Regions from separate parts of the Homo sapiens genome. Here all the other regions are reported to be linked to region 1. Evidence: microRNA targets listed by miRTarBase, many of them from high-throughput screens and not tested one by one. Region 1 holds a microRNA gene; each other region holds the end of a gene's coding sequence.
What was found. Region 1 holds the annotated microRNA hsa-let-7g-3p (CUGUACAGGCCACUGCCUUGC, at 1,679-1,699, opposite strand). A microRNA usually pairs through its seed, bases 2 to 8, with sites in the 3' UTR of a target mRNA and lowers its output. Matches are read on the target gene's strand: a 7mer-m8 pairs with bases 2 to 8, a 7mer-A1 pairs with bases 2 to 7 and ends in A, and an 8mer does both.

Region 1 (3,083 bases):
TAATTTTTGTATTTTTAGTAGAGATGGGGTTTTGACACGTTGGCCTGGCTGGTTTCAAACTCCCGGCCTCAAGTGATCCGCCCGCCGCGGCCTCCCAAAGTGCTGGGATTACAGGTGTGAGCCACTGCACTGGGCCTAGTTATATTTTAACTGAGGTATCTCTGAACACCTACCTCTGCACCTCTATAACCTCAGTAAATCAAGAGTTGACTATTTAAGAGAAGATGAAGAATGCCAAGCAGTAGTGAGGAAGTAGCTTCAGTTCACTAATAAGCTCTCTCTAGCCTTCTATTCTCTGGGTAACCTCAGGGATAAAAGAACTATCTGCTTCTATAATACGTGGGTCTTACCTTTTGCTATGTCCAGGAAAGTATCTGATGTATTTGTTGTCATGCAAGGACAAGTAACGAATAGTATCTGTAAAAAGACAAACAAGGTATGATGATATCATACTATTTAAAAGAAATTTACTTTACATTTTCATCTTAAAAAGACAAGGTCAAATAATCCATTGTATTCTATATCCCAAGCAAGGCATGAATAAATAATGGTGAATAATTCTACTCTGCAGCTGAAGAGTGGGTATGTAGATTTCACCTAACTCAAAAGCAGAGTTCTTAAGTTGACAGCATAGAAAGCAATGTTTGAAATGACCTTTTATTACCAATTTGGTTTCTTCATAATTACAATGCAACTCCCACCCTGCAAATATACCCTGGTCAAAAAACAAAAACAAGTAAAGCACACATAATAATTTTAGATACTGGTCTAGTGTCCACAGAATGGCAAACCTTAAAGAAAAATATGTGGCTGTTGAGCTAACAGACTTAAAGAGGTGAGCAGCCATGGCAGTTAAACTGAAGATCAGGTTGAACCCTGGCAGCAATTTTTGTCTAGAGTTCTCCATCAGTATGTTGACCCACCCTCAACTCATTTGAACATTCTTCAATTGGACACACAAATTACAATGAAAATAAACAAAACGTCAGAGAAGTGATGTCAAGATCTGGGTTAAAAAGATCTTAAGACATTAAAAAAATCAAATTCTTATACCAATGAGTAATAGCAGTGAGATTTTGACAATATTAAAGAAAGGAACAATCAGAGATTTGTGCTTGTGGAAAAATAAGACACTCTTAACCAAATGATTCTATCTGAAAGAGTAAACAAACAAAAAACATGGTGGCGGTAGAGAAATGAAGTGCCATAAAGAATAAAACTGCAAAATAGAAAAGTATTATCCCCTTAAAAAGACTAGGAATAAGGAAAAATTGTTGAGAAACAGCTAAGGGAAAATGGTACCAAAATGCAGAAAGAAAACCATAGAAAGAACATTCTGAAGGCAAACAGAACATAGGAATAAAGGGGTTGAAAGCATCGAGTCATCCCAGGGGTTCACAGGGGTGCTTTCTAATAAGAGGGCATTTAACTTGGGAGGGGGAATAGGGGAATAGGGATATTTGTATATTCCATAACTTGAACACTACACAATTTTCCTTGAAAACATCTTCAAACTTCTTGAATGACAACTACGAAGTATTTCTAGTTATTCTACTGCTAACAATGACTCACCTGCCCTAAGAAGAAAAAGACTTCCTCCCCATTACCTGGTTTCCCAGAGATGAGCAGGGTGACGCCATCCTCTCAGCCCCACTTGGCAGCTGGCGCGCTGTTCCTGGCAAGGCAGTGGCCTGTACAGTTATCTCCTGTACCGGGTGGTATCATAGACCCTCAAACTGTACAAACTACTACCTCAGCCTGGAATCAGGCAAAAGGAAACGGAGCGCTGGAGGAACTCTTCAGGATGCACTTGAGACAGGAAAGGGAACATCCTCACAGCAGAGGCTTGGCAGCAAAGCTACAAGTGCCACACATTTGCCTCATCTTGCACCACATTTGGAGAATCCTCATTTAATCACTCAGAAAAACATCCCAACAGAAGAAATAAACCAGTCATTCGGATGATCACATAGACATGTTTCCTCAGGATCCTAAGGTTTTACATTCTTTTCCAAAATCATTAACTACACTGCTTCCTTAGAAAACCACTTCTGAAATACAGGCATGAAAAGTAGAAATGACATACTTAACTAAAAATCAATACAGGCAGAAGAGTCTCATTAAAAAAAAAAAAAAATGGAAAAAAGGACTTCCGCCCATTCTGCTCTGAGATAGGCACAGCCAAAATAGCAGTATAAGCTATCCTTGTGGAATGACATTAGAAAAATCTTTTTTGTTTTTTTGAGATGGAGCCTCGCTCTGTCACCCAGGTTGGAGTGCAGTGGTGTGATCACCCTAGACCTCCAGGGCTCAAGCAATCCTCCCACCTCAGCCTTACAAGTGGCTGGGACTACAGGCGCGTCCCATCACACCTGGCTAATTTTTGTATTTTTTGTAGAGACGGGGTTTTCCCAAGTTGCCCAGGCTAATCTCGAACTTCTGTGCTCAAGTGATCCACTCTCCTAGGCCTCCCTAAGTGCTGGGATTACAGGCATGAGCCACTATGTAGCCACCGGCCTAAAAAAAACCTTACTGCAAAATGTGAGATGATCATCAATAATCCACTGAAATAAGTTTAAAAACAGAATCCTGGCCGGGCGTGGTGGTTCACACCTGTAATCCCAGCACTTTGGGAGGATGAGGCAGGCAGATCACTTGAGGTCAGGAGTTCGAGACCAGCCTGACTAACATGGTGAAGTCCCAACTCTACTAAAAATACAAAAATTAGCCGGGCGTGTTGGTGGGCACCTGTAATACCAGCTACTTGGGAGGCTGAGGCAAGAGCATCGCTTGAACCCAGGAGGCTGAGATTGCAGTGAGCCGAGATTGCACCATTGCACTCCAGCCTGGGCAACAAGAGCAGGACTCTGTCTCAAAAGAATAAAGAATAGGCCGGGCACGGTGGCTTACAAGGTCAGGAGATCAAGACCCATCCTGGCTAACATGGTGAAACCCTGTCTCTACTAAAAATACAAAAAATTAGCCAGGCATGGTGGCATGCACCTGTAGTCCCAGCTACCTGGGAGGCTGAGGCAGGAGAATTACTTGAACCCGGGAGGCGGAGGTTGCAGCGAGCTGAGATC
Region 2 (3,083 bases), not on the chromosome of region 1:
TAATTTTTCTCTCGTCCTTTTCCTTTTTGATCTTGTGTTGGTTGATTTTTTAAATGTCGAGGTGTTTTTTTTAAACTCTAAAATGTGAACGTTTCCTTCAGCCCTCCCACCGAAACAGAACGAACGACGAAACAAATAAAAACCCCAGATCATCCTCGTCAACGCAGGAAAACGACTTAAAAAAAAAAAAACTAAAAACGAACAAAAAAAAGGGAAAAACACTCAGCTTTCGTTATCCCCGCGCAGGGCGGGGCAGGCCCGGTTCTTTTAGCGTCCCCAGAGCCGCGAGGACATTACAACAAAAATAGAATTTTTTTTTCTTAATCTCTTAACATACAAAGATAGGAAAACTCTCTGATGCATTGCACTTGGTTCAATGAAAAAAAAAAGTTAATTTCCCCCATATATATTTTTGTTTTTTTTTTTTTCTCTCCTAACACGTCCCCACATCTCCTGTTGCCCTCATTGCCCCTCACAACACCACTTGGGAAAGGAGCAGCCCCCACCCCCTGCCCGCCCGGGCAGCCCCGCCGGGCACGCTCCGGCCCGGGCCCAGCTGGCCTGCAGCTTCCGACCTCGCCCGGGCAGGCGCCCCGCAGACCCTAGCTCCCACAGTCCCACAGAGCCCGAGCCCTCGACTGTCGTCGAGGGAAAGGGCACGTGGGCCGGACAGGGAGCCCCTTCTGCTTCGCTCTCAGCTCTGACCCTGTTTAGCCAACCGAACTGAAAAATCATTGCACTTTGACCGCGCGTCACGCCCGGCCCACCCGGCCCCCCACCCCCGGGGCCTTACTCCCCACGCCCCGGGAGACTCCCGCAGGATCCACTGCCCCTCAGCCCTGGGGTCCTCTAGGGCTGCACGCTGAGGACAGGGGGAGGGCTTCACTCAACTTCCAACAAAAGCCGCCCCTGGAGCCAGCCACCTTGTGGCTTCCAGCTGGGTAGCAGGCACCGTTCGCCTGCCGCTACGGCCCCAGGTCGCTGACCTCCTCCCCTCCCGTCACTCCCTCCTCTTCCCTCCCTCCGCCAGCTCGGGGCCACAGCCTCACAAACTAGATTCACAATAAATACAGCCCATAGCCCACCCCTACGTGGTGCAATGTTGATTTTCTCTCAGAGGATCCTGACCTGTGCTTTGTGTTTTCATACAATTAAGAAAGAGAGAGAAAGAGAGAGGCACAAGGACTCAAGAAGGGGCCAGGAACGGGAGACGCAGGAGGAGGAGTAAGGCACAGAAAGACAAGCCAGAGGGGCCAAGTCACACCCTGGAGGGGAGCTGGGCGTGCTCATCCTCCCCTCCCTCCCAGGGGGGCTTCTGAAGACCCTCTGGACAGGCCCCCCAACCCTCCCTTGAGGGAGGAGGGGGCTGGGGGGGAGAGCTACTTCCTGTGGTGTGTTACCAAATTGTTCCCAAGTTGCTCAAATGGAGGAGGAGTTCCCATTCCAACAGCAAAAGACCCAAACAATGAATGCCCCACCCCTAAATAAAGAGTAAAGACATTACAGCTAAAATCCAGAGAAAAGTGGCCACGTGGGGGGCGGGGAGGCGGGGGAAAGTCGGGGGGCACAGAAAGCTCCAAAACACTTTTGAAAAGGACGACACCCAACACCCTCCCAAGGAACTGAAAGTCGGCGAGCAGGACGCCTACCTAAGCGCAGGTGGTGGCTTAGCGCGGCAGCGGCGGCTGCCTGGTCCTCCTCGCTCGGCTCCGGGGTCCCCTTTCTGCTCCACCCTCCGGCCCGGCCCCAGCAGGGCAGTCTGCATGAGGGGCAGGGGCAGGAACTGATGGGGCGGAGCGAGGGCACCTGCATGCAGGGCTGGGGGCGGGGGCGACCTGGGGCCCGACTCCCCTCCCTCGTGGCAGGAAGGAGGCCCTCCTGGCCTGCAGAGAGAGGGGAAAGGGGGCCTGTCCCAGGCTGGGACGAGGCCGTCGAGAGCATTCCGACTTTTTCCTACGGACTGTACAGAGGGGTCCAGGGCCCCAGGACTGCTCTTGCGGCTCAGGGTGGGGTGTCAGAACACCCTCCATTCTGGGACACGCAACTAGCTCCAGGGGTCACCCCCTGCCCGCCTGGGGGCTTTTAGCCCAAGGGTGGGGTGGGGTAAGTGGAGGCTGCTCTCCCCCTCCTGGTCGGGAGCAGCTGGGGGAAGAAGCTGGAGCCTTGGCAGAGAGGGAGGGAGGGAGGGAGGGAGGGAAGGGCGGAGTCTGGAGGGGAGAGCCTGAGGGATCTAAACCCCATCATCTTTACAAGCTGGCCCTCCAGGCTCCCTAGGGCAGCTCCGGCTGTGTGGAGGGTGGGGTTCCCCTAGGAAGGGGTGAGGGTGGAGGCCAGGCCCCTTCAGAATTGTGCTGGTTGCTTTGTTTGGGGACTTTGTTCCTTCCCCAGAAGGCCGGGGCGGGGTCAGGGGGAGGAAGGCAGTTCTGCATCCTTTCTTGCTTTCTGTCCTCTACTTGACAGAGTCCATGTCGCGTGTTTCTTTCTGCTTGGCTGCTGGTGCACAGCTCCACCGAGACCCCTTCCAAGGGCTCTCTGAGAACTGGGCTGCTTCTGGGGCCCGCGGGGGTCCCCGGGCTGGAGGAGAGAAGGGCTGAGTGGCTGACGACGTGTAATTTTTGCTTTTCGGTGGGGCTGGGCTGGGCTGGGGGATTTTTCCATTCTCAAAATTTCTTCTCCCCCCTTTCGAGGAACCTCTTCTTCTCATTTTGTTGTTTCTTTTGTCGATCTTATCAGAGGAACCAGGACTGAAACAGGATGAAAAAGAGGCGATACTGAGAACAGCTGGGGCAGGTCCCATCTCACTCCTACCTGGCCCAGTGACCTGGCCCCTCAAGGGTCCAGCTCCCAAAGAGCCAGGGTGCCGGGCAGCCACCACCCACCTTGTTCCCATGGAGAAGAAAGGGCATCCCCATTCTCTCCCTCCCTCCTGCGAGAACCCCGCCCCCTCAGAGACTCTGCCCCTAGTGCTAGAGTCCAGCTGGCCTTCCCGTGGGCACTGTGCCCAGCGGGTGGGACCCCCATGGCTGGCGCTGGCACAGGCCTGAGATCTGGCCATGTTTCCAATTGTTTAGGTTTTTGTGTGG
Region 3 (3,083 bases), not on the chromosome of region 1:
AATTTTAAAAATCACATGGAAATGAAACATATGAAAAACTATCAGTATGTATGGTGTAAGAGTTAGCCAGATCGGCACTTTTATTCACCAACTTAGTTAATTTAAGGCATTTGACATGTTTCACTGAGATCACTTAATGATTACAGAATTGCCAAGCAAATTAACATCGGCCATGCATCTTATAAATTGCAGATGAATTTATATAACCAAACTAATATACTGCTTAACAGTTTTGATTATTTTAGTGTATTTTTTTAAAACTTTGCTCAAAGCTTAGGGAAAAATATTGTGAAGAATGCAGGGCCAGTCATTAAGCCTATTTTATGTACTGGGAGACTGTTGGTGAATTTTAGGGTCAAAAAATGTTAAACAGCACAGCCATTAGAGACAGTGAAAGATTTTATTTTTTTTTTTACTTTCATCCAAACACACCCTTTTCTGAAAAACATAAAAGCATGCACATCGACGGCATTCTTATAAAGAAAAATTAATAACTAAGCTGTAAATCAGTAATAATACAAACAAAAGTTTAAATGATATGTGAAAAGACTTACAGGTAGGTATACGGCTCTTAATTTTAGAAAATAATTCAAGTCAGTATCAATACAGGTTAAGGAGAAGCTTCTAATTTTCCAAACATTTTGATACAAAATTTTTTTCAACGACTGTATTTTATAGACCTTTTGTGAGAAGATTAGTATAGTTCTATGAAACCTAACATTCAAGTGATCTTATGCAGGTCAGGCTACCTTGTTAAAATGAGTTAGAATCCACATAATTCCAACAGTATTGCCTCTCAAAGTTCAAATTTAGAACATACCCATTATATTCAAAATATATTAAATCCCTGTACTTAACAAAGACATGGAATTGATCTAAATTTTACTTTACAGGTAAGAGAAAATTACAATTCAGCATGAGGAAATTTTCATAAGTTTTACCCATGCCCCGATTATTAGGCCAACTATATCCTGAGTGTCCATGGATGTGTGCATACATTCTAATGTACACAAACCAATTCACACCACACGACTCTTCAAAGATGATGCTTGAAAGAGTTTATTCTCTGGCATGGGAGAAGCAGTGTAACACAGTCACTTAATTTTCCCTTAATCATTATTTCTTTCATTTTGCTTATCATGATCCAACTGGTATGTTTAATGTGGGCCACTGATATATTTCTGCAGCAAAAATCCAGTAGCAGTAAGCAGAAATGTCAACTTAAAGGACTATGAGGAAATCGAAGTTTAAATTATAACACAAAAATAGAACAGTTCACACTGAAAGGTCTTCTCCCATGGGATATATTGTTCCATGGCTAAAAATCGTGATCTGGTTCCTGGAACACAGCTCTTGCTCTAAGGCGATACATATTAATGTGTAGCTCCACTAAACCTAATGGGAAATAAACAAATTCGTTCAGTCATGACAAATTAAGTCTGTATTTCACTGGCTTGAGAAGGTGAACTTCTTGACACAGACAAATGCAAAATGCCTCTGCAGTAGCTGGTGAAGCCCACTCACAAGGGCTTAAAGAGTTCAACTCTGAAAGTGGGCAGCACAGGCTGGCTCTGCATTTCTTCCTAGCAAGTCTGCGTGCAAGCCGCTGAGCAGCACCACTGACGGGATCCAAGGGAAGGACCAGAGCCCAGTGGGAATCCACCACACTACAGAAACGCGACTTCTGAATGAATATTCTGTGAAATCAAAGAGAAGCAGGCAAAAGGCACACGCTAGTAAATCTAGGCAGAATGTCTGCAGGCTCTCATCACCTTAAAAATCTTGTGAACTTGGGGTCCAACCAAGGTTCACACCGACTCTTTTGATATTAAAAAAACAAAACAAAACAGAAAACCTTAACGTTTTCAAGCACTTATGGCACAGACAAAGGGAAGTACTAATAGTGTAGCTTAAATCTTCAAAAAGCTGGGAAATTTAAAGTTCTGCTATAATGAATCAGAGTCACAATTTTAAACTTCGTTCTCATATTTTATACCATTTTCTGTGTGTACAGGGTGTGCAAATTAAGCAATTTCAATAAATATTAGAAATTTATTTTGCAAATATAAAATGAGTAAAATCAGCTAATAACGCAATACAATAAAATCATGTGCTAAACAGAGCTTTTTCCCCATGAACACTTTTTACCCTTTCCTTTGAACATCCTGACACTTCCTAAATACAATTTATTTCACTGACTTGTAGAAATAAGCAAAAGATGAAATATTAACTAGCTGCAAGATACTAAATACTTTAGTAATAAGAGCTTGGAGCTGTCAAGTTGTAATAAATTGAAAATAACAGAAAAAGTGAAATACGCTGCAAATTAATGCTCAAAAATGCAGCCATCTGACTTGCAAAATACACAATCCTCCCAGCCTTCTCAAGTTGTCATTAGTTCATAGGAAATGGACAGAGCAGGAGAAACTCCATTTAGCTTTTACCCTTCCAGCAGCCCCGATGCTAAAGTTGTACAACCAGGTATGTTTGCCCAAGACCATTGCATATCAGCTTTCGTCACAAATTCTATTATCCAATCTTCAATCAACAAGGCTTTATTTACACTCCTTAATAAATTCAGGAAACAATTTGATGTCATGTGCAGCCGCCAAAAATAGACAATGTAGCACATCCCACTGTCTGGAGACAGCTACTTGTCTATGCTTTAATAGTAACCCACAGGCAGCCAAGTAGGGTTCCATATATCCAGGTGTTCACATACAGCTTCCTTCCAGCATCGGTCATAAGCATGCCTGCAGTCAAACCACTTAAGATCAACATTGATGGTAAAGTCTTCTTGATACTTAATTTGGAATTAACACTTTTCCCAGGAAATCTTTTTCTTCTTTCTGGATCTGGTGACTCATAAAATTCTATAAGCATCCTATGGCCAGAATGGAAAAAGTTTAGATTTTAGTCACTTCAGTATTTCAATTCAAAAAATATCAATCAGGTAGCTATTACACGCTGGAAAAGTTATGCAGGTCCCTGGAAAATAAGGATGAATACGGAAACATCCAGAAACTTGGTTTAATAGAAGTTTCTAGTCTTCTAAAATATCTTTAATATGCTCTATGATTAGT
Region 4 (3,083 bases), not on the chromosome of region 1:
GCCAATTGTGCAAATTACACAAGAATTTCATGAGCAGGGAAGGGACAGAATCAAACCTATTCTGGGGTGTGGACAGAGCAGAATGGCCTACTGAAGCCTGGAGTAAGGTGCAGTCCACAGAGCTTCCACAGGCATTAGGCCTCCTCTGTCAGCCCCAAACCCCAAAGATGCAGCCCCAAACCCCAAAGATGCACCCTCTTCCTTCTTCAGGTTCCCTAAAACTCCCACGTGATCTTCCACACTCCTGGTGTTGCCACAACCACATTGTCCTCCTGATAAACTTTGCCTGGTACTGATCACCCAAGGCAGTAGCCCCAGGACTCTTGCACCTCTTCAGCACCTAACACGGCTTGGAGGATCCACAGAGCTACATCAATATTACACAGATGCGACTGATGTCCTGCGGACCTCAAGAGCTGTGGGCAGCCGTAGAGTTCATCTCTCATCTCCATCCCCATTTACAAATGAGCAACTAAAGCTCAGAGAACTAAGACTGTTAGGGGCAGAGGTGACAGGATGCCCTGTTGGCTGCCTCTTAGGCCTGGTGTCTTCCCCACACATCACACAGCTGTCTAAATTCCCCAGGCAAGTCATGATCTGTACACAGTATGAAGCTGGGAGTGTGGGTGGTGATGGGAGGGAGGTGATACCCCATGGAAGACCTGTGCCTACCTTGGGGACTTATGGAAAGATGGATTGTTCTTTTCCAAGGCTGCAAGGTGGAGTCCGTCCACCTGAATGTGGAGGCCGTGAACACACACCGGGAGAAGCCTGAGGTAGGTGGGGGACTCCATTACCCAAGCTGGCTGTGGACACAGCACATGGTGGAAGCACCTTCTCCACAGAAAGACTGCCCCAACCCCACCGAGCCTGGGTGTTTTGCACCAAAAGGTGGAAAAAACAGCACCCAGAAATGCAGGAACTACAGCCCAGACCTGAGGCATCATGGAGATGCAGGGCTGGTGCAATCCCTGCCAAAAAGGCCTCAGGCTGAGATTTCCTCCAGGCCTACCTGAGGGTCAGGATCCAGGCCTGGCTGAAAGAGGGGAGCCTGGCAATGAGGACAACAGGCAGGGGAGGCGTTGGGGCCCTGCACTGCTGTCTCCTTCCTATTAATCCTGGGCTCTCTCCTCAGAATGTGGACATCACTCAGGAACCTAAGGAAGCTGTGGACACCATCCCTACCCACTACCAAACCCTTCCCAGGAGGCCAAATTGCCTTTGCTCTTTTTTGTGCCCCAGGAGCTCCCGTCTCTGCCCTTGTCCACATGTCCAGATACCACCAAGCACCCAAGGAAGTCATGGCCTAGGCCTAATTTTGTCCTCAGTGGGAGAGCCTTGCTTCCAGCATAGAACTCAGCAGCTCAAGCCAAGTTCCTGCTCACAGTCACAGTCAAAGCCTGTGCATGGAGCTTTGTCTTACTTTGTAATTCTTGTTCTTGAGGTAACAAAGTCTTCTCTTTCTCCCTGCAGGAGAGAAGAGGCCATTGTGAGGCCTCCTTCACTGCCCATAAGATCCTGTCTCGAGGAGGCAGCCCCGGTCCTGTGCAAGTGGGAAGATTGTGAGGGCCTCCTAGAGGGACAGGATCCTGGGCAGCATTTCCAGAGATGGGGAGGAGTGCCTGTGAGCCCATCCCTTTATGAGCAATGTGGCTAGGGGTATATCTTCCTTCTCACAGAGGAGACTCTGGCATCTAACTCATAGTGTTCTCTACTCCTACTCCTGCTGCCCTCCTGGAGTTCTTTCACTTTCCACATGGGTTGTATAACCAACACCCTAGAATCACAGGCCATGGACCCCTTATCTCCAGAATAGTCACCTTCTGTCCCCTTCAACTACCTACTCTCTGGACCTTATCATCACCTGGAGCTCCACCTCCTCTGTGTTCTTAAGTGCAACTGTCTGAGCACCAATACCCTCTCTCACTATGCGACTTCTCGCAATGTCACTCCAAGACACCTAGCAGCATATCTATCACATGAGAGTCACTTAAGTGATATTTATTGAATAAACTATACTAGTTCTTGGGTCTCGTGTTCATTGATCCTGCCTTTGTATCCCAATCCAGTAGCTAGATCTTCCCACATTTCCACCTGCTGAAAGCTGATCTACCCTTCAAACTACAGCTGAGGTCCTGTCTCTCCCACATAAACATGTTGCTCGCTCCCCAAATATAGGGAAAAAAAGAAGCAGAGAGCACATCTAATTCACTTTGCAATTTCAATGTTTATTTCTGATACCAAAACTTGACAGCACACAAGGGGAAAAAAAGCAGTAGACAAGGAACAGCAAATAAATTTATCTTGCATGCCACTTTCAGTCAACAGGATGTGGCTCTCTAGATAGCTGTGTTTAGAAGGAATCTGAGGCTTCAGCCTCACACAGGGGAAAGACTACTGCGATTGATAGCAATATCTGTGAACATAAGAAAGAAGAAGTAAAAAAATCAATGATATATATCAAATAATAAGGAATATACATACCAAAGAGTGCTGCCCCATACTTTCCTCATCTCCCTACAATGAGTTTCCTAATACTTCTAGCTCATGCACATAAATACAACCCCATGGACCCTATATCCCCCAGAGACCCTAACTGCCCAATCCAAAGTGATGTACCTACCCAACATCTCACTCAACCCAGAAGAAACCAATGGCACCAAAGTTGGCAGCGAAGTTGGCACTGGCTGTACCACCAGGACCAATAATGGGACCGGCAAAGGTCTGAGGGAATCTGGAGCGGGCATTCTGGTGGTATCTGGCCCAGAAGGTAAATGGAATTCTGGACCAGGGATCTCCAAAATCTCCTTCCTCATCCCAGGTCAGCAGCTCAAACTCAATGTCATCCCAGCTCCAGGGCCCAGACACAGCCTCATCTCCAATTCCCATGCGGGTTCTTGCTTCAGCCCGGGCTTCGGCCTCAGCTGCAGCAGCATCCAGAGCATCCAAGGCCTCATCTGCAGCCTCCATGAACTGTGCAGTCCAGTCACGAGGGTCTCTTTTCTGAACCTGAGATGAGGAATAGAAAACAAAACAAAATCCATTTACAATAGCCAAGATATGGAATCAACCTACCTGTCCAT
Region 5 (3,083 bases), not on the chromosome of region 1:
CTTTTGAAATTTCTCTTGCCCCTATGCAACAAACAGATAAGTACTTTAATGGACAGGTATTTTTAACATGTCATTTAAAAGATAAAATCAATGGCATTCACTGGCTTTCACATGAAAAACAATTCTAACACTAGCCAGTTTTAACACATTTTCTGTCCAGCCTTCACACGTAATTCTTCCTTCTAATATTTTATTAACAGATTTACAAGGGTCCCGACTCTTCCTTCCGGTATTCCAGCCTTCAGCTGAACTGTGAATATCGCTTCCGTGTATGTGCCATTCGCCAGTGCCAAGACTCTCTGGGACACCAGGACCTCGTAGGTCCCTACAGCACCACAGTGCTCTTCATCTCTCAGAGGACTGAACCACCAGCCAGCACCAACAGAGACACTGTGGAAAGCACAAGGACCCGACGGGCACTGAGTGACGAGCAGTGTGCTGCCGTCATCCTTGTGCTGTTTGCTTTCTTTTCCATTTTGATTGCCTTTATCATTCAGTACTTTGTAATCAAGTGAAAATATAACTTTATTTTTTAACTCTATTACATTTTATTTTGTCATGTACTAAAATTATTTCTGTATTGCTTTTATAAAAAACAGTGGCATTTAGCACTGGCATTGAGACTATAGCACATCATTTTTGCCATTTTCAGTGCTTATATTGTTAGGTAGAGGCTGGCACTTTATTAGAATGCAAGCCACAAAAATATCAATTTTGTTTTTTTTGTTAGGGTGGGTCTTCTTTTTTTCTTTCCCTCTCTCTTTTTTTAACAAATGCCTTCTTATAGAAAAACTTTCTAAGAGGCAACAATTTAGAATGGATATTTTGACGAATCGGCATGAGTGTAACAGTGATAACCTGATCTGTTTGTTTTAAAGATTATTACCAAGTGAAAAATTCAGAATGAATAGAATTTACACTAACATGCTATATAAAATGTTAAAGTCTGATGCTGTGAAAGCAATCTAGTGCTATATTTCTACCTCCTCATTTGTCTTAATTATTTGGTAAGTGGGATTATGATGAGTAACTGGAGGGGCTTAGAAACAAAAACTGGATGAAAGAGTATGCATGAAGAAAAGCTTCTTTGATAAATGTGGAGTTCTTCATTATAAATATATATTCATGAATTCACAGATAAGTACTTAAAGAACAGACAGTTTACTTGGCCTAAAAATATTTTGATGTTTACTCAAAAAGTACCTCTTCAGGTCTTGAGAACATGGAAAAGAATTGAGTGCTTTTAAATACTTTTTAGAAAGTAATCATAAAAGTAAATTGAATTTCAAACCTATTTGGCTTCTGTTTTGTGAACCTTTGAACTATATGTATGTGTATAAGGGTATACACATACATATATGGCATATAACAAGTGTACACATATACACATAACAAGTGTAGAAGTATATATTACATACATACACTCACTCTGTCTGGTATAGGCTAATTTTGAAGAACTCCCATAAGTTTCTGCTGCTTCTCCCATAACTGCTGCCACCACCATCAGAATTCATAATCAAACCTAACCTTTTTGTTTGGGGCACCAAATCTGAAGACAAAATTAATTTGCACCAGTAAACTTCAAGCTGCTTTCTTTCTTGAAAACTAAACGTTTAACGTATAATGTCTGTTTGGATACTGTTCCAAATTGTTGATTGCATGTGGTTAATGTTGCATTAGAGCACTTTGCAATTGCATAATTCATTAATGTTTTGTGAGCTTGCATTTGTGAGTTATTGGATGATCAGACTGAATTTTGTCAAGTATCACATTGTACATCTTGCCTAGATGTCGATGACTGCAAGTAATAATACAGTTTATAATGAAACTATCTACAATTCTTGTTTTAGCACATCTGTTATCCGTAAAACACCTGTAACTAGCTTTTTTAATTTATTATTTGAATTTTAGGATAGCGAATCACTAATTTTTAGTTGCTGAGGTTGGCATTTTAGTGATTATTAAGCACTTCTGTCAGTCTTTGAAAAAAGAACGTATTTTTTGTGCTTTGAAGATCTCTGAAGAATTTCTTTTATAATAGAATGGGCATGTATTGTAACAGTTTTATGTCAAATGATCTGTGCTGTAGAAAAACATTAACCCTTGTTCAAAAAAGAAATGGATAAACTTGGCCTTTCTAAGTGGTAAGAATGACCTGTCACTATAATATACTGTATGTTTACATTTTATTTAAATTTAATCTCTTATGTATAGGGTGATAACCTTCCCCAGAAACAACAGTGATTGCGATTGTTTTCTAGAAACTTCTTTAAAGTGCCACATTTGGCAGTACAAATGAGTCTGAGTGTAATAGCCCAGAGATTTATATATAGTTGAATGTCTAAAATGGTAAAATGTGCCACTGTGTCAAGTTACAGTGGCTTATGTTTTTCATAGTAATTCAAATGAACTTCCTATTTTTGATAGTAAATGTCATTTAATAGTATACTTGCCATTTGAGCCTCACTGCAAAATTAGTGCAGAGGAGAAAACAATTTTTAATGTAATCTTGATTTTACCTCATATACTGTACATTCCAAAAACTCTAAACTTTTTAAAGATTATAGATACACTACCAAACATATCACCTTAAAATTGTATAAGGCTGAATGAACTTCATACAAATGAAAAAAATCTCATAAAAATACATAAACTATGTAGCAAAAGTATCTGTAAAATCCATGGAAAATAAAAGTTGTATCATTCTTTTTGAGATACGTTTATTGTATTCATATATATTCATTATTTGCTACCTGTTTAAGAAAGTGAAATGTTATGGTCTCCCCTCTTCCAATGAGCTTAAAACATTTTTCCCAACAGTATATAAATCTTCAACATGAGAGGATGTATATTTATTATATAAAGCCCAGTAAAGAATAAAATTAGAAGTTTTATCCTAGTGACTTGATTTTGTGCAACTCATGAAATATCTTACTTCCTTTCCACATATAAAGAATACAGTGAGTCTAAGGTAAACTTCCCAGTGGGAAGAAAATCCCTAACCTCTCCTTGCCTTTCCCACATCCCTATTTTCTAGTACCTTCTTTCGCCCACCACCAGAGGCCCAGAACCTTCCTGGTAGT
Region 6 (3,083 bases), not on the chromosome of region 1:
AGGAGGGGAACGGATACACAATAAAAAGCAAACGCAGGCCAAGCAGCGAGCCCTAGAGCGTAACAGGCTGGATGTCAGATTTAAGGATTATCTAATACAACTGTTTAGCTGCCAATCTGATAAAGGGGAAGCTCTCAACCAGGTTACAACCAGAAGGGAAAAACGTACTCTGCCTTTTCGTAGAGCAGTGGCTGTCGTGCCTTCAACACCTGGTTGAATCAGTTCATCAACATCGAAACTCAATTCCAGTTCCAAGACACAGAATTTCATCACACAACCTATTCGGTACCCCTTTTCAGTGGCCCACCCAAAACCCCCTCCTGCCATCGACTCTCTCCCTCCCAAAAGAAGACATGACGTGGCTTTATTATTGCAGACAAGCTTCTTAAGTGAATAAAGAATGCATACAAAATAGTATTTTAACTGAAGTCATACAATGAAGTCTCACTCCTGTTTATTATACAATGAATTGATAAAACAATTACTTCTAGTATATATCTTTTTTTTTTTAGAACTAATACTTTCAGGGTTCTGACAACCACATTCTAGCTTAGGGGTAGGGCCCACACCTGCCCCCACTGAGGACTGCTCCTTGGACCACTGTGGAGGAAGCCTGGGCTGTCTGAATTGTGAATTATGACTGCCAGCCCACCAGAGATAACAGATCCCAGCAGGCAGAGCCAGAACCCAGTTTTGGGTCTGCATGCCAGGAAATGTGAACTTCCTCCAAATGTGGCCACTGTGCCTCCCAATCCAGGCCTCAGCAAGGTCATTCTTGGGCTTTCCCTACACGAGTCCTTCCAGTAGTCCACACATAATGCTCTACATATTAAAAACAAACCATTTTTGTACTGTGGATAAGAACAGTTGTAACAAAGTCATAGCTACATATTTTTCTCTACATTTTGTTTATTGAGACAAACTAATTAAAAGGCACAAACATAGGGCATGTTTACATGGACATTATAACAAACATATACATTAAAAGTGTAGGAATGTGTTGCCTTCCTGCTAAACAGAAAGTTCCTAAGCTTTTATATATACAAAAGTTGTACAATTTAATGTCCTAAAGTACAAAAGATCATTTATAAAATTATTTTACACTAAGTACTATTTATTTTATTTTTTTACTATGTAGTTCAACCCCCTAGAACTGTTTTGTATAATGACACACAGATACCTGTCCCTGATGTAGGAAGTCTGTCTCAGATGCAAGGTATTTTGATGCTTGAACTGACACAGTAGGGTATAAATGGAAATCATCCAGTTTGATAGTCAGTCCTGCAAACATTCTGCAAGATTAACACAACTAATTTCCATTTCTCTTAACTGCAATGATTAAAAAATGAAAAAAACCAAAAACATATTGCAACTTAAAAAATCACAGCATCTTGGTTTAGTTAATTTTTTTTTTAACGCAATGCTTTAAAAACAATGCGTGGCATGATGGTGTAAAGAGTATCTGTTTCCCTAGCTTTTGGTTTCTACTTTATGTACAGAGATAAAATATCTTGCTAAGAAATAAAAAGCACATGTCTCAACGTGCATAATCATTGCTGGGTTTCTACAGGGAATGCAGACAGCTGTCTCCCTGAAAACACCACAAAGCTGATACAAGTGTTTTCTCAAAGAAAAAAAAAGTGATGTCCATATTTACAAAGTTGAACAAATCTGCGCAATACTTAAGAAACGGAAGGAGAAATTTAAAAAAAGATACACTCTGCATGTTCTGAAGGGGCATACACTACCTAGTTAGTGGTTAGAATAAAAACTGTATACAATTTAATATAAGACATAAACTCTAGTGAGCAACTAACACATCTGTCCCTGTTGTAATATCAACAGGCTCTGATTGGGAGAGAGAGGGGCATATCACATCCCAGTGCCTCCAGCGTCTTCCAATTTAAAGCAATATATTTGTACTGTTCCAAAGTACTCCTTGGCTCCTAAATAGGAATCCCACTGGACTCTGTTTATTAGGAGCTTGCCTGTCCACACACTTGACTTCTCCTCTGTCAGTTGAGGCTTTTCTTAGCAAAACACAATTTGTAGATTTTTTTTAAATTTTTTTTTTTTTTAAAAAGTCAACTACAATGCTATATTCCATCGGGATTAATATGCTGAGCAATATTTACATCTCCAAATATCAGGTCACAATCCCTATTATACGTTGAAGTTAGAATGATAAATTATCATATGCTTTGCATATCAGAGCTGGTATCACCTTTCCCATAGGGAATGCTGCCTGAAATTAACATATTCCCAAAGGTAAAATGCATATTCTCTGAAATGCATTTTATTATGACAATGCATGTATTTACTCATAAAAACAATAAACACAGACAATTCTACACTAGCTCTCAATCTGTGGATTTAAAATTTCAGGTTAAAATCAGCCATCCACCTTGTATAGGGAGAAGAGTTCTGCTAGTGTTTACAATAAAGTGATTCCTTGGGATTAGAAATAGTAATGCTGTTTTTTTATTTTGAAGTGGGTTCTACTTATGATTGGTTTTAATTCTGGCATTTCATCTTGCCAACTACTATCCTGTTTAAGCAATGTTGTCAGCTAAAAGGAATTTCTGATTAAACTAAAGTGGTCCAGTGATAAGTTACATACACACCCTACTTTGAATAATCCCAGCCAAATTGGAGAAAAATGCTACCACACTCTTATTAACTAATGTAATAAAATCTCCCAATTTCATGGTTTACTTTTTGCTTTAATCAACTAAAAGTTAAGTTGCTGGTAAATATTTACTTTTACCCATATTTTGATTTTATAATACTGTTTACCAAGGCGGTGATGTAGGCAAAGCTTGGGGCAAGAAAGGCATGCTCTCTACAGGTCTCATTGCTATATTGAGAGGGGCGGCTAATGTCATAGGTGTGGGTAGATTCATTGGAGATGTGATGGTGACAGGGTGTGCTATATTCACTGGGGCAGTGACGGGGGTGGGGAGGTTGACTGGGGTAGTGAGTGTTAAAGGAGAGGTCATGGATAATGGACTGGTTATAGTTACAGGATGCCCTATGTTCATTGGGCTGGTTATGTTAACTGCACTTGAAACATTTACTGGACT
Region 7 (3,083 bases), not on the chromosome of region 1:
AGCTAAGAAGTCACAACACTACTCTACAGGAAGGTGCAGTTAAAAGAAATTTGAAAAGCACCAGCTATACATGAAAATAATGGGCTAATTGAGGAAGCAAAGTGCAATCTTTTCTTCTCTGCCGGAAACCACAGAGTGGAGAAGCCCCTGCTCAGCAGACAATGAGACACAATCAAATCACATTCAGCACAATATGAATTAAGCATCTGAGAGTGGAATGACTTTCTCCACACCAACAAAGCCTCAGAGTGTAGAATTTTATTGGTCAGATCCTGTATTGTTCTTCCAGAGCAGCATGGCTTCTCATCCTGGAATGATTAAAAGTACCAGAAGCAAGTGGAATAGTCAGATATTCAAACTAAATTGATAAATGTGTATAGATAGCATAGAAAATGTACTTACATGAATAAATAGCCAGCATGTTCAATTGCCAAATCTGAAAAGTACAATGAATGTAGAAGCTAACTGAAACTGAATTCTTAAGGATTTGCTACAATATCTCAGGCTTACTAAACAAAAGGCTAGATCCAATATTCAGAATGCAATCTTTGCTCCTGAAGGAGCTAGTTTTTGTTATTTGTTATTATTTATTTATTTTTTTGGTGGGGACAGGGTCTCGCTCTGTTGCCTAGGCTGGAGTGCAGTGTTGCAATCTCGGCTTACTGCAGCCTCCACCTCCTGGGTTCAAGCGATTCTTGTGCCTCAACCTGAGTAGTTGGGATTACAGGAGTGCATGACTATGCCCAGCTAATAATTTTTTTTTTTTTTTGGTATTTTTAGTAGAGATGGAGTCTTGCCATGTTGGCCAGGCTGGTCTCGAACTCCTGGCCTCATGTGATTTCCCCACCTCGGCTGGGATTACAGGTGTGAGCCATCACACCTAGCCCTGAAAGAGCTAGTTCTGTTAAGGGGCCATGTGAGGGTCCAAACCTTTCTCTTTGGTGAAGACTTTCTGCTGGAGGGGCAGGGCTGTTGAGATAAGCTTTTTCAAATGGCCAACATCCCTGAAGGGCAGTGATATAAAATTTTCCCTGACACAGAAGTACAGAAGAAACCCAGCACTTTGTAGAAGCTGGAGGAACAGCAAGTCACTGGCAACTGTAACAGTCGTGTCACCATGCTGGTGACTGTCAGTCCAGTCACCTCCTGAACCACAGTCTAGCTCTTGTTGCCCTAAATCACATCTGAATACCACCCATATTCTCAAACTTAATACAAAACAGACCTGAAGTTCTTCTGTCCTCAGAATTTGGTTATGATTGAAATGTAACAAGCAGGAAGTTAGAATTCTGGTTGCAAAGAATTCACGTTGAAAGCAGAAACTGTCTTACTCATCTTTAATACACTTGTGCCTAGAACAATGCCTGGTTGATTAGTGAGTGAATTAATGAGAGGCCTTAAAAGAGAAAAGGAAATTTTACAGGACTATAGTAGTTGAAGAGCTACATTGGAGAAATTAAAGAAGCAAATCCGATGACTGAATTAACACTCCATGACTCATCTAGCTATTGATCAAAGAGAGAATTTATTCACAGAGATTTTCAAATACAAACAAAATAGCACTTTTAAATTTTTTACAAAATGAATATAGAAATAAATGTGGTACAGCACAGTACAATAATGGACAAAAGAAAACACGATCCAATGACTGGAAAATGTCTCTCATTACTCTCATATCTTCGGCTGAATTCTCTCCTATAGTGGACAGAAAGTTGCCCCTTTTCTTCATAAGAATATCATAGCAGAAGCTACTCAGAGAAATATTGCATATTGTGGAATAACATGGAAATACAAAGGCTTAACTCTAAAGGTCTGCATAAACACTGAAAATATGTTGAGGAACTAAATTAGAGTTTATGCAGGATATACAAAATACTGATAGTTTGGCTTATTGGTCCATTTATTAGGCTTAATGTATGTTTTATAAAGTGATAATACTGTATTTTAAATGTATATTAAAAAGAAAACAGAGGAGAAATGCACCACTAAACCTCCCAGTCTGTGCGATAATCCACGTTTGTGCATAGGCGTGTGTGGGGATGCATATGTCTGTATGTGCTTGTGTGCTTTTGGGAGTGCCGTGACCTACAGGGAACATCTTTGGGGGTACCCTGCTTCCCAACATAACACTGTTTCTACTAGCCCTTTGATTTTCTGAGTCCTCACCTTAAAAAAAAAAAACTAAAACCCAAACCCTTGTTTGTATATGTAGATTTGTTGTGTGTGTGTGTGTGTGTGTGTGTGTGTGTGTGTGTGTGTGTGTGTTGTACATTAACAATACTCTGTGGAATAGAAACACCCGATGCCCTGCAATATTTTTAGCCTTTGGTCCATTTTTCTCCATCATTCTATACTCTCCTTTTTTTTCCCCCACAAATCTCCTACAATCCTTCCTTCCTATATCATGTTCCTGATTTTATCGGGTTTCATTTTATTAGCATTGTATTGGATTAGAACTACTATCCCACCTTTTGAAGGTAGGTGGATGTTTTGACCTCTCCAAGCCCCTTTGGCCCATCTTCTCCTCTGTCTGCTCTTGGTAGCTCCATCTCAGTATGGGTAGTGCTTCTGTTTCTTGCCCGAAAAGCAAGCCAGCCACGTGCACAGCAGCATGGCGGCAGTGGCACCTGCTCCCGTGCAGTAGTAGGCCCAGCCGATTTCACACTTCCCTAAGGACAAAGGAAGGGGAAAGAAGAAAGTCACAGATGAGGATGATTTTGCAGCAGGGTTTCTTATTGCTTCCAGTGTGTGGGTTCTGAAACACCCTTTAGGAATATGGTATCCTCGCTTAAATGGAATAATAATGTGCTGAAAGTTATCTTGACAGTGAAGAAAGCAAGAATGGCTGGATGCATTTCAGAAGGATCTCAATGTCTACCTCTCACACGGGCTAAGAGAAGTCTAGTCTCCTCCACCAATATCCACACCCTGGCCAAAAATAGAGAAGAATGGCAGCAACCAGGATAGGAGATGAAGGAGTTAATTGTAACTTACATCACCCAAGCTCACCTGCGTAACAAAGTACTTTAGGGAAAAAAATATAAATGTTGATGCAATCCTTCTGCAAAAGGGCCACTTTGAGG

Region 2: the mRNA of NFIX is a reported target of hsa-let-7g-3p. Seed matches in the 3' UTR shown: 7mer-m8 at 1,962-1,968.
Region 3: miRTarBase lists AGPAT5 as a target of hsa-let-7g-3p. Seed matches in the 3' UTR shown: 7mer-A1 at 2,470-2,476 and 7mer-m8 at 2,008-2,014.
Region 4: miRTarBase lists MAGED1 as a target of hsa-let-7g-3p. The part of its 3' UTR that is shown has no 7-base or 8-base seed match.
Region 5: miRTarBase lists FNDC3A as a target of hsa-let-7g-3p. Seed matches in the 3' UTR shown: 7mer-m8 at 2,528-2,534.
Region 6: the mRNA of VEZF1 is a reported target of hsa-let-7g-3p. Seed matches in the 3' UTR shown: 7mer-m8 at 1,493-1,499 and 7mer-A1 at 1,050-1,056.
Region 7: the mRNA of LHFPL6 is a reported target of hsa-let-7g-3p. Seed matches in the 3' UTR shown: 7mer-A1 at 2,265-2,271.

The regions. Positions count from the first base shown.
Region 1 is chr3:52,266,602-52,269,684 of GRCh38, forward strand. It overlaps MIRLET7G (microRNA let-7g), which reads right to left and starts at 1,760; the gene lies at 1,677-1,760. It overlaps WDR82 (WD repeat domain 82), which reads right to left. Exons shown (of 9, transcript NM_025222.4): 3 at 351-417.
Region 2 is chr19:13,094,296-13,097,378 of GRCh38, reverse strand. It overlaps NFIX (nuclear factor I X), which reads right to left. Exons shown (of 11, transcript NM_001365902.3): 11 at 1-2,744. The coding sequence ends at 2,730. Among named protein-coding and RNA genes, the nearest start is that of LYL1, 7.0 kb to the left of the region's middle. RefSeq lists an enhancer at 597-1,460 and a silencer at 1,772-1,861.
Region 3 is chr8:6,756,964-6,760,046 of GRCh38, reverse strand. AGPAT5 (1-acylglycerol-3-phosphate O-acyltransferase 5) reads right to left here. Exons shown (of 8, transcript NM_018361.5): 8 at 1-2,884. The coding sequence ends at 2,659. Among named protein-coding and RNA genes, the nearest start is that of MIR4659B, 13 kb to the right of the region's middle.
Region 4 is chrX:51,901,479-51,904,561 of GRCh38, reverse strand. It overlaps MAGED1 (MAGE family member D1), which reads right to left. Exons shown (of 13, transcript NM_006986.4): 12 at 2,624-3,009; 13 at 2,208-2,416. The coding sequence ends at 2,632. Among named protein-coding and RNA genes, the nearest start is that of MAGED1, 9.4 kb to the right of the region's middle.
Region 5 is chr13:49,206,881-49,209,963 of GRCh38, forward strand. It overlaps FNDC3A (fibronectin type III domain containing 3A), which reads left to right. Exons shown (of 26, transcript NM_001079673.2): 26 at 201-2,899. The coding sequence ends at 515. Among named protein-coding and RNA genes, the nearest start is that of MLNR, 12 kb to the right of the region's middle.
Region 6 is chr17:57,971,681-57,974,763 of GRCh38, forward strand. VEZF1 (vascular endothelial zinc finger 1) reads right to left here. Exons shown (of 6, transcript NM_007146.3): 6 at 1-3,083. The coding sequence ends at 2,793. Among named protein-coding and RNA genes, the nearest start is that of VEZF1, 15 kb to the right of the region's middle.
Region 7 is chr13:39,341,386-39,344,468 of GRCh38, forward strand. It overlaps LHFPL6 (LHFPL tetraspan subfamily member 6), which reads right to left. Exons shown (of 4, transcript NM_005780.3): 4 at 1,507-2,669. The coding sequence ends at 2,551. Among named protein-coding and RNA genes, the nearest start is that of LHFPL6, 260 kb to the right of the region's middle.